Homo sapiens: one gene and its partner. The protein of the gene in region 2 interacts with the protein of the main gene of each other region in a pairwise test. Each region holds a gene or a part of one and is shown on either strand. Other genes may lie near its edges. The genes, in order: RGL3 and FAM200A.

The links.
Region 1: the proteins of FAM200A (region 2) and RGL3 interact in binary tests that used the Homo sapiens proteins (3 or more experiments, as listed by UniProt).

Annotation. Positions count from the first base shown.
Region 1 is NC_000019.10:11,409,264-11,416,568, forward strand, and holds part of RGL3 (ral guanine nucleotide dissociation stimulator-like 3), read right to left. Parts: intron 6,886-7,305; coding exon 6,674-6,885; intron 1-6,673.
Region 2 is NC_000007.14:99,545,677-99,549,296, forward strand, and holds the end of FAM200A (protein FAM200A), read right to left. Parts: intron 2,831-3,620; 5' UTR 2,732-2,830; coding exon 1,010-2,731; 3' UTR 624-1,009; downstream 1-623.

The DNA of each region.
Region 1 (7,305 bases), on a different chromosome or scaffold from region 2:
AGGTCAGGAGATCGAGACCATCCTGGCTAACATGGTGAAACCCCGTCTCTACTAAAAAATAGAAAAAATTAGCCAGGCGTGGTGGCGGGCGCCTGTAGTCCCAGCTACCCAGGAGGCTGAGGCAGGAGAATGGCGTGAACCGGCGAGGCGGAGCTTGCAGTAAGCCGAGATCATGCCACTGCACTCCAGCCTGGGCGACAGAGCGAGACTCCATCTCAAAAAACAAAACAAAACAAAACAAACAAACAAACAAAAACAAAAAGAAAAGAAAAACATGTTTGCAATAATATGCACCTAGAACCTGACTATTTTGTTCATAAACACAAATTTTTTTGGCTCCAAGAATGCAAGGACCACGAAAGTCTGGGCTTTGTTTTGTTTGCAAATTGCAAATGTTGTTCACAAGTTTGGAAAATGATGTCCCCAGAACCTATGTTGCTGTCTTTGCCTCACCAGTGCCCTCCTGTGCGTTCGTTGGTGCTTGTTGCTGTCAGTACAACAGCACCGTGACACTCTACTGTGACGCTAGGACAGGCAAAGACACGGGACAACCTCATCATGTGTCCTAGTGGGGCATACCCAAGCATTACCCATTGAAAACATGGTTTATTGCTGTGTAAGTTACTCTCACTTTCCTTCTCCTTTGTACTAGTTATGGCATCATACTATTATTTTATTTTATTTTTTTATTTTGTGATGGAGTCTTGCTCTGTCGCCCAGGCTGGAGTGCAGTGGCTCGATCTCGGCTCACTGCAACCTCTGCCTCCAGGGTTCAAGCAATTCTCCTGCCTCAGCCTCCTGAGCAACTGGGACTACAGGAGGTGCCACTATGCCCAGCCAGCTAATTTAAATATATATATATTTTTTTATTATTTATTTATTTTTTATTTTATTTTATTTTATTTTTTATTTTTTTTAGTAGAGATGGGGTTTCACCATGTTGGCCGGACTGGTCTCGAACTCCTGACCTCAGGTGATCCTCCTGCCTCGGCTTCCCAACGTGCTGGGATTACAGGCATGAGCCATAGCACCCTGCCCCAATACTATTATTTTAAAATAATCTTTGTAAATCTGTGTAATTACCTCTTTCATCTTGAATTAGGACAGGTGGCATTGCAAAATATTAGTTTTTAGAAGTGGGTACTGGGCTGGGCACACCTATAGTCCCAGCACTTTTGGAGGTTGAGGTAGGAGGATTGCTTGAGACCAGGAGTTTGAGACCAGCCTGGGCGGCGTAGTGAGACCCCATGTCTACATAAAAAAATTTTTAAAGTTGCGCATCCTGATGCACACCTGCTGTCCCACCTACTCAAGAGGCTTAGGAGGGAGGATCTCTTGAGCCCAGGAGGTCAAGGCTGCAGTGAGCTGTGATCATGCCATAGCACTCCAGCCTGGGTGACAGAGCAAGAAACTGTCTCTCCTCCCCCCACCCCAAAAAAAAGTGGGCCCTGGAAAAAAAAATGCCCTACATCTAATCAAACCTTTAAATCTTACAGCAATTATGGGGATAGAGAAACATGCTGCATGAAACCATGAGGTAAGTCGAAAAGAATGTGAGACATACCTCAGGAAAAATGACCCATTTTTTTTGCCCTCTAATGGCTTCAAACAAGAGGCAAGGGGGATCTGTTACAGAATAAAAGAGACTTAGGAACAAACGACCGGTAGGGCGTGGTGACTCATGTCTGTAATCCCGACACTTCGGGAGGCCGATGTGGGCAGATCACTAAAGGTTAGGAGTTCAAGACCAGCCTGGCCAACATGGTGAAACCCCCTCACTACTAAAAATACAAAAATTAGCTGGGCGTGTTGGTGGGCACCTGTAAACTCAGCTACTCAGGAGGCTGAGCCAGGAGAATCGCTTGAACCCAGGAGGCGGAGGTTGCAGTGAGCCAAGATCACGCCACTACCCTCCAGCCTGGACAACAGAGTGAGACTCCATCTCAAAAAAAAAAAAAAAAAAAAAAAGAGAAGCAAACAACCAAATACCTTGAGTAGATCTTTGGATTTCAATTTGAAGAAACAACTATTCCTCCTTCCCCCAGCTCTATCGCCTGGAGTGCAGGGGCATGCTCACAGCTCACGGCAGCTTTGATTTCCCGGAGTCAAGAGATCCTCCCATCTCAGCATCCTAAGTAGCTGGGACTATAGGCATGTGCCACAACACCTGGCCAGAAACAACTGTCAAAAGAAAATTTAGGGCTGGGTGCCATGGTGGGCACCTGTGGTCCCAGCTACTCAGGAGGCTGAGGTGGGAGGGTCAGGAGTTCAAGCCCAGCCCAGGCAAAATAGGAAAACCCAGTGTCCAAAAAAAGGTTCAGGCACAAACAGGGGATTTGAATATTTGAATATAGACTGGGTATTTTTTCTGTTTTTGAGGCAGGGTCTCGCTCTGTCACCTAGGCTGGAGTACAGTGGCATAATCACGGCTCACTGCAGCCTTGACCATCCCAGGCTAAAATGATCCTCTTGCCTCAGCCTCCCAAGCAGCTGGGACTATAGGCAGTCACCACCATGCCCAGCTAATTATTTGTAGACACAAAGTTTCAACATGTTGCCCAGGCTAGTCTCAATCTCCTGGGCTCAAGCCATCCACCTGCCTTGGCCTCCCAAAATGCTGGGATCGCCAGCAGGAGCCTCTGCATCTGGCCTGGATTGGATTTTTTTTATATCAAATATTTCTGATTTTTTTTTAAGTATGAACATGAAGGTTATTAAAAAATAAAAATAAAAGGGCCGGGCGCCATGGCTCACGCCTGTAATACCAACACTTTGGGAGGCCAAGGTGGGCGGATCACCTGAGGTCAGGAGTTCGAGACCAGCCTGACAAACATGGAGAAACCCCCCTCTCTACTAAAAATAGAAAATTAGCCGGGTGTGGTGGTGCACGCCTGTAATCCCAGCTACTCGGGAGGCTGAGGCAGGAGAATCACTTGAACCCAGGAGGCAGAGGTTGAGGTGAGCTGAGATCCTGCCATTGCACTCCAGCCTGGGCAACAAGAGCGAAACTCCGTCTCAAAAAAAAAAAAAAAAAAAGTAAGCCTGTTGTCAGACATGTGTACCCAAAACATTTATGTATGAATTGACATAAGCCCGGGATTTGTTTTAAAATCATCCTGAAAATATTTTTTTGTGAAATTGATCATCGTTGATGATAGGTGATGGATGTCTGAATGTTCTTCATACTATTCTCTCTACTTTTGTATATGTCTGAAATTTTCCATAGCAAAAAGTGAACCCAAAATAAAGTTGTTAAAATAAAATAGATGAGCATGGTGGTCATCTACTTTCTTCTAAACTACATGGTGCAAGTGTAGTCTTAGCTACTCAGGAGGCTGAGGTAGGAGGCTCACTTGAGCCCAGGAGTTCGAGTCCAGCCTGGGCAACAGAGCAAGACCCTGTATCTAAAAATAAAATTCATAGTCGGGTGCGGTGGCTCACGCCTGTAATCCCAGCACTTTGGGAGACCGAGGCAAGCGGATCACGAGATCAGGAGATCGAGACCATCTTGGCTAGCACGGTGAAACCCCGTCTCTACTAAAACTACAAAAAATTAGCTGGGCCTGGTGGCGGGCGCCTGTAGTACCAGCTACTCAGGAGGCTGAGGCAGGAGAATCACTTGAACCCAGGAGGTGGAGGTTGCAGTAAGCCAAGATCGCGCCATTGCACTCCAGCCTAGGCGACAGAGCGAGACTCTGTCTCAAAATAAAATAAAAGTAAAAATAAATAAAATAAAATAAAATGAAATAAAGTGTGTCCCAGGGCCTAGCACATAGAAGGTCTTAAACAAATGTTAATTTTCTCCTCTGACCTCAAAGAAACTAGGGCAGCACTTTCCATATAATTCTCTGCAATGGTGGAAAAATTATCTATCTGCTATGTCCAGTGTGGTGGCTGAGCACTCAAAATGTGGGTAGTGGGATTGAAGACCTGAATTTTTGCCTTTGCTTGACTGGATTTTGAAAAAGAAAAAAAAAAAAAAAAAAAGCGGGCCAGGCATGGTAGCTCACGCCTGTAATCCCAGCACTTTGGGAGACCGAGGTGGGTGGATCACCTGAGGTCAGGAGTTCAAGACCAGACTGACCAACATAGTGAAACGCTGTCTCTAATAAAAATACAAAATTAGCTGGGTGTGGTGGCAGGTGCCTATAATCCCAGCTACTTGGGAGGCTAAGGCAGGAGAATCTTTTGAACCTGGGAGGAGGAGGTTGCAGTGTGCCGAGATGGCGCCACTGCACTCCAGCCTGGGTGACAGAGCGAGGCTCCGTCTCAAAAAAAAAAAAAAAAAAAAAAGGGCAGGGTCAGGCACAGTAGCTCACACTTACAATCCCAGCACTCTGAGAGGTTGATGCTGGAGGATTGCTTAAGCCCAGGAGTTCGAGACCAGCCTGGGCAACATGGCAAGACCCCATCTCTAAAAAGAAAAGACCTGAATTTTATTTAATTTTAATTAATTAATTAATTATTATTATAATTTTGTTTTTTGGTTTTTTTTTTTTAGGCAGAGTCTCGCTCTGTCACCCAGGCTGGAGTTCAGTGGCTTGATCTCAGCTCACTGCAAGCTCCGCCTCCCAGGTTCGCGCCATTCTCCTGCCTCAGCCTCCCGAGTAGCTGGGACTACAGGCGCTCGCCACCACGCCCGGCTAATATTTTTTTGTATTTTTAGTAGAGACGGGGTTTCACCATGTTAGCCAGGATGGTCTCGATCTCCGAACCTTGGGATCCGCCCCCGTCGGCCTCCCAAAGTGCTGGGATTATAGGCATGAGCCGCCGCGCCCAGCCAATTTTAATTAATTTAAATAGCGACAGGGGCTAGTGGATACCACAGTGAACTATGGAGCTCTAATGACTTGGAATCAGCTGGAGAAATCATATATATATATATATATATATATATATATATATATATATATACACCTATATATATATACCTTTATATATATATATACCTTTATATATATATACCTTTATATATATATATACCTTTATATATATACCTTTATATATATATACCTTTATATATATATACCTTCATATATATACATATATATATATACCTTCATATATATATATATACCTTTATATATATATACCTTTATATATACCTTTATATATATATATACCTTTATATATATACCTTTATATATATATACCTTTATATATATATACCTTCATATATATACATATATATATATACCTTCATATATATATATATATATACACCTTCATATATATATATATATATATATATATATATATATATATACCTTTATATATATATAAATAACTGAGACTTTGTCACCAGGGATAGAGAAGTGGCTGCTACTTTGTAAATTGGACAGGAAGGTGGCCACTATAATCTGGAGATTAAGCGATGGGGATTAGGGATAGAGATGCTTTTGTGATGTGGATCAGATCAAATACAGATGGGTGAAAGATGATACTTCCTAAGCAGGATGCAATTATTCAGCAAACTAATCTGTGTTGTTCCTGCCCCTGGGGACAGAGCTGGGAGCAAGAACAACAGGTCCTCCTCTCATGCACTCACAGCCTATGAGATGAGCAAAAGCCAATAATCAAGTAAGGAGGCTACGCATGCACAATGGCTTATGGCTGTAATCCCAGCATTTTGGGAGGCCAAGGCAGGCAGATCACTTGAGTTCAGGAGTTTGAGACCAGCCTGGGCAACATGGCACAACCTCACCTTTACAAAAAAATTAGCCGGGCGTGGTGACATGCGCCTGTGGTCCCAGCTACTCAGGAGGCTGAGACAGGAGAATGGCTTGAGCCCAGGAGGTGGAGGTTGCAGTGAGCCAAGATTGTGCCACTGCACTCCAGCCTGGGTAACAGTGCGAGACTCTGTCTAAAAAAAAAAATAGATAAAAAAATAAAATTAAATTAAATTAAATTTAAAAAGAAATTCAAAAATAAGAAAAATTTTACAGGCTAGGTATAGTGGCTCGCGCCTGTAATGCCAGCAGTTTTGGAGACCCAGGCGGGAGGATCACCTGAGTCCAGGATGTTGAGCCTGCACTGAGCCATGATGGAGACACTGCACTCCAGCCTGAGCAACGGAGCAAGACCCTGACTCAAAAAAAAGAAAATAAAGACAAGTATCAAGGCAATGGTTTGTAGCTAGAAACACAGAGCATCCTGACCCAACGGCACCAAGGAGGGAAAAGTATTAGACACATGCTAATACTTCAGACAAAGAATTTGTTTTTTTTTTTAGACGGAGTTTCGCTCTGGTTGTCCAGGCGAGAGTGCAATGGCACGATCTCGACTCACCGCAACCTCCGCCTCCCGGGTTCAAACGATTCTCCTGCCTCAGCCTCCCGAATAGCTGGGATTATAGACATGCCCCACCACGCCCGGCTAATTTTGTATTTTTAGTAGGGATGGGGTTTCTCCATGTTTGTCAGACTGGTCTCAAACTCCTGACCTCAGGTGATACACCATCCTTGGCCTCCCAAACTGCTGGGATACAGGCGTGAGCCACCACGCCCGGCTGACAAAGAATTATTATCCCCATTGTAAAGATGAAGAAATTGAGGCTTAGAGTTTAAAATCTTGCTTAAGTTTTGTAGCTCTGAGAGGGGAGAGAAAGCCTGTGTGGGAAGAAGCAGACAGGAAAGGCCTTCTCAGAACACGACTGGATCTGAAAACCCCTCACCTGTCCACACCTGAGGCGGCTCCTCTTCCTGCTCTCGCTCAGCCTCCTCCAAAAAATCTTCCAGAAGCTTCTCTGCTTTTTGAGCCTCAGCACTCCCTGGGGCCGCCCAGCCCAGAAAGGTTCGGACACTGCCCAGGTCCGAATGGGCAGGGTGGTCTCGGAAATCCTGAGGGTGGTCCTGCAGCCAGGAGCCCAGCACTGACACCACAGCCCTGGCCAGAGAGGCAGGGTCTCAGAGCTGGGTCCAGAGTGGGGGACATAGAATATGACTCCTGGTACCTTTTTTTTTTTTTTTTTTTTGAGATAGAGTCTTACTGTGTCACCAAGGCTGCAGTGCAATGGCCTGATCTTGACTCACTGCAACCTCAGCCTCCCGAGTAGCTGGGACTACAGGCATGCGCCACCACACCCAGCTACCTTTTTTTGTTGTTGTTGTATTTTTAGTAGAGACAGGGTTTCGCCATATTGGCCAGGATGGTCTCTAACTCCTGACCTCCAGTGATCCACCTGCCTCGGCCTCCCAAAGTGTTGGGATTACAGGCATGAGCCACCACGCCCCACCTGACTCCCAGTCTCTTATTACCCAACCTGCAATTTTCAAAACCCCAGTCCGACTGCTAACCTTTGACCTC
Region 2 (3,620 bases):
AAATACAAAAAAAATTAGCTGGGCATGGTGGCACGTGCCTGTAATCCCAGCTACTTGGGAGGCTGAGGCAGAAGAATTGCTTGAACCCCAGAGGCGGAGGTTGCAGTGAACCAAGATTGTGCCGCTGCACTCCAGCTTGGGCAGTAAGAGTGAAACTCTGTCTTCAAAAAAAAAAAAAAAAAAAAAAGCAGTATTTAAAAAAAATTTTTTTTTCAAGACAGGGTCTTGCTCTGTTGCTCAGACTAGAGTGCAGTTGCACGATCACAGCTCACTGTAGCCTCGACCTACTGGGCTCAAGTGATCCTCCCACCTCAGCCTCCCAAGTAGCTGGTACTACAGGTGCACACCACCAAGCCTGGCCAAATTTTTGTATTTTTTGTAGAGACGGGATTTCAATGTGTTGCCCAGGCTGGTCTCAAAACTCCTGGGCACAAGCAATCCACCCACCTTGGCCTCCCGAAGTGCTGGGATTACAGGTGTGAGCCACTGTGCTGGCCTCTTAGTTTTCAAAATTCTTGACAATAATTCACAGGACATATATTTTATATAATAACCTTGTACACATACACACATTCATGTAACTGAAATGAGTTTCATGAAACATACTATGTAGAAAAATAAAATCCTAATTACAAATATAATTTTATTAACGTTTAACTACAACATACTGCAAAATCCCTTTAAAAGTACAAATACAATTTTTTTTTTTTGAGATGAAGTCTCACGCTGTTGCCCAGGCTGGAATGCAGTGGGATTATCTCAGCTCACTGCAATCTCTGCCTTCCTGGTTTAAGAGATTCTCCTGCCTCAGGCACCCAAGTAACTGGGACTGCAGGCATGTGCCACCACGCCTGGCTAAGGTTTCTATTTTTAGTAGAGATGGGGTTTCACCATGTTGGCCAGGCTGGTCTTGAACTCAAGTGATCTGCCCACCTCGGTCTCCCACTGCTGGGATTACAGGCGTAAGCCACCACACCTGGCTATACACAGAATTTTGTAAAGTTTGTATTTAATGTGATGGGTGTGCTTGTCTGTTCATAAGTTCCTTCCAGTCAGGAACACATGAAGATAATGCTACCCGCATATCTGGTGCACTATTGAGCCTATTTCTCTTCTTTGTTTTTAACCGTGTCAAGATTGAAAATCCTAGTTCACACAAATATGTAGTTGTGAATGGTAGTAACAGCAATATACTCTTCCTACTTAGCAGTGGAAAGTCATCTTTAATCTTAATCCAAAATGCTGATAAACTTAATATCTTATAATAATTCTTTAGTGTGAATGATGAACTGAGCTGCAATAATTCATTCTCTTCTTCAGGCTCCAAGTTTAACTCAATTATTGATTCTGGGTTTTGAAAAGCAAATGGATCTTTCATCCAAATATTTTCCTTTAATGATTCAAATTTCTCTTCCGGAAAGTAATAATTAAAAGTTTGAGACAAAGAAGTGAGATGCAACAATATCTCTAATTTTATTTCTTTTAAGCAGTCTTCATTAATAATGTTCTCTTCGATGTGTTGCAATAATGTTGGAAACATATAGTAGCTAGGGCGGTTACTTTTAAGTCTTGCTTGCCACAATAATAACGTCTTTTGGAATCCTAGAATATGTTCAAGATACTGAAATATATCATTGTTTTTCCCCTGCATTTTCAGGCTTAATTCATTAAGAATGCCAAAAATATCACTTAAATATGCCAATTTTGTTACCCAAATGTCGTCTTCAAAAATATTTGCCAAATGAGATTGCTTTTCAACGAGAAAAATGTAAATCTCGTTCCTGAGTTCATATACTCTGCTCAATACTTTTCCTTGAGAAAGCCAACGAACTTCTGTATGAAACAATAAGTGGGTGTGGTTCACTCCAATCTCTGAACAAAATATTTCGAGAAGTCGGCTATTCAGTGAGCTTCCTTTAATAAAATTAACAGTTTTCACTGCATTTTTCAATACATCCATCAGACTTGGTGAAATTTCTTTGGATACCAAAGCTTCTCGATGAATAAAACAGTGATTCCAAACAGCATTGTTGTGGGTTGCTTCTAACAATTTTTCAGTAAGTCTGCTGTGTTTTCCGGTCATATTTGCTGTTCCATCACTTGAAATTCCTTTACAATGTTTCCAGTTTAATTTATACTGACCAAGAAGGCAGTTTTCTAATTCAGTAAATAAATCTAATCCAGTTATATGTGAATTTAAATTTAAACAACATAAGAGATCCTCTACAAAATCATCTTGCCACACATATCTGACATAAACCAAGAGTGTGGGACAACTTGCAATATCAGTGCTCTCATCGAGTTGGATTGCAAAGTCTATACCGGACTGCAGCCGTGTAATAAGCATTGCTTCCAAATGTTTTGCAATCGTACAGATTCGACGAGATATTGTATTATCACTAAGAGGTATAGTTCTTAGTTTATCAGCTGATTTGTCATCAAAAATTGTCCGTACCATGTCCATACATGCTGGAAGGATAATTTTTTCAGCCGCTGTGTGAGCCATTTTCTCTTTTGCCACTCTATATGCAACTAAATACGATGACAATAAGGCTCTCTCATTCATAGTTGTAGAGCGACTGAGAACTTGTGGCGATGACTCTACTTTGTTTCTTTCCTTTTGAAAATGGTCTTCTTCATCTTCCTCCTCCACCTTCACTATCACGATGCCTTCCATCTCCTGGGTACCCCCTGGAGACAAATCTGTAGTATCCCTTGATTCAGGAGTCATTATTCAGGTTCCAGGAACTGGCTCACTTGATCCAAATAGGGTCTGTTTTGCAGGGCTGTCCTTTGTGACCTAGGTTTTATGAGATCAGGTTTTGCTATCCTGCAGGGTAGAAAAACGTAACAGCAGTATTAAAAAGCAACATGGTATTGCTGGGCTAACAACTCATACAAAACAATTCACTAAATCTAGTGGTGTGACATGGTAAATGATGAGCAACTGTCATTCATGTTGGCTGTGTGTCAGGGAGATTTGGTGTACTATATACACCACTCATTTAATACCCAGGGAAACCTAATGAGGTTCACATAATTACTATTCTTATATTACAGATGAAAAATAAAAGTTCAGAAAGATTAAATGTGTCTAACAACCCACAGTAAGTATAGAACCAGCACTCAAATCCAAGTCTGAAGCGAGTGTCCTAAATATGCTGCTACACTGCCAACTCTAAAAAGTGATCTGGTCATTCTTTTTTTTTTTTTTTTTTTTGAGATGGAGTTTCGCTCTTGTTGCCCAGGCTGGAGTGCAAGGGCACGATCTCGGCTCACTGCAACCTCCACTTCCCAGGTTAAAGTGATTCTCCTGCCTCTGCCTCCCAAGTAGCTGGAATTACAGGCCATGTGCCACCACGCCTGGGCAACTGAGCAAGACGCTGTCTCAAAAAAAAAAAACAAAAAACAAAAAACAAAAAAAACCATCAGGTAGGGTACATAGGGTACACAAGATGATCCACTGGGGCATAGGGAAAAAAATGAGAACTTGTATTTCTTAAAAATAAGAAATTAAGCTGCATAATTATTCAGTATTATGAATATTGAAACATGTTCATGTTACATAGATCCATGAATTATTCTGGAGGGAGAATGAGATTTCCACAACACATGCGATT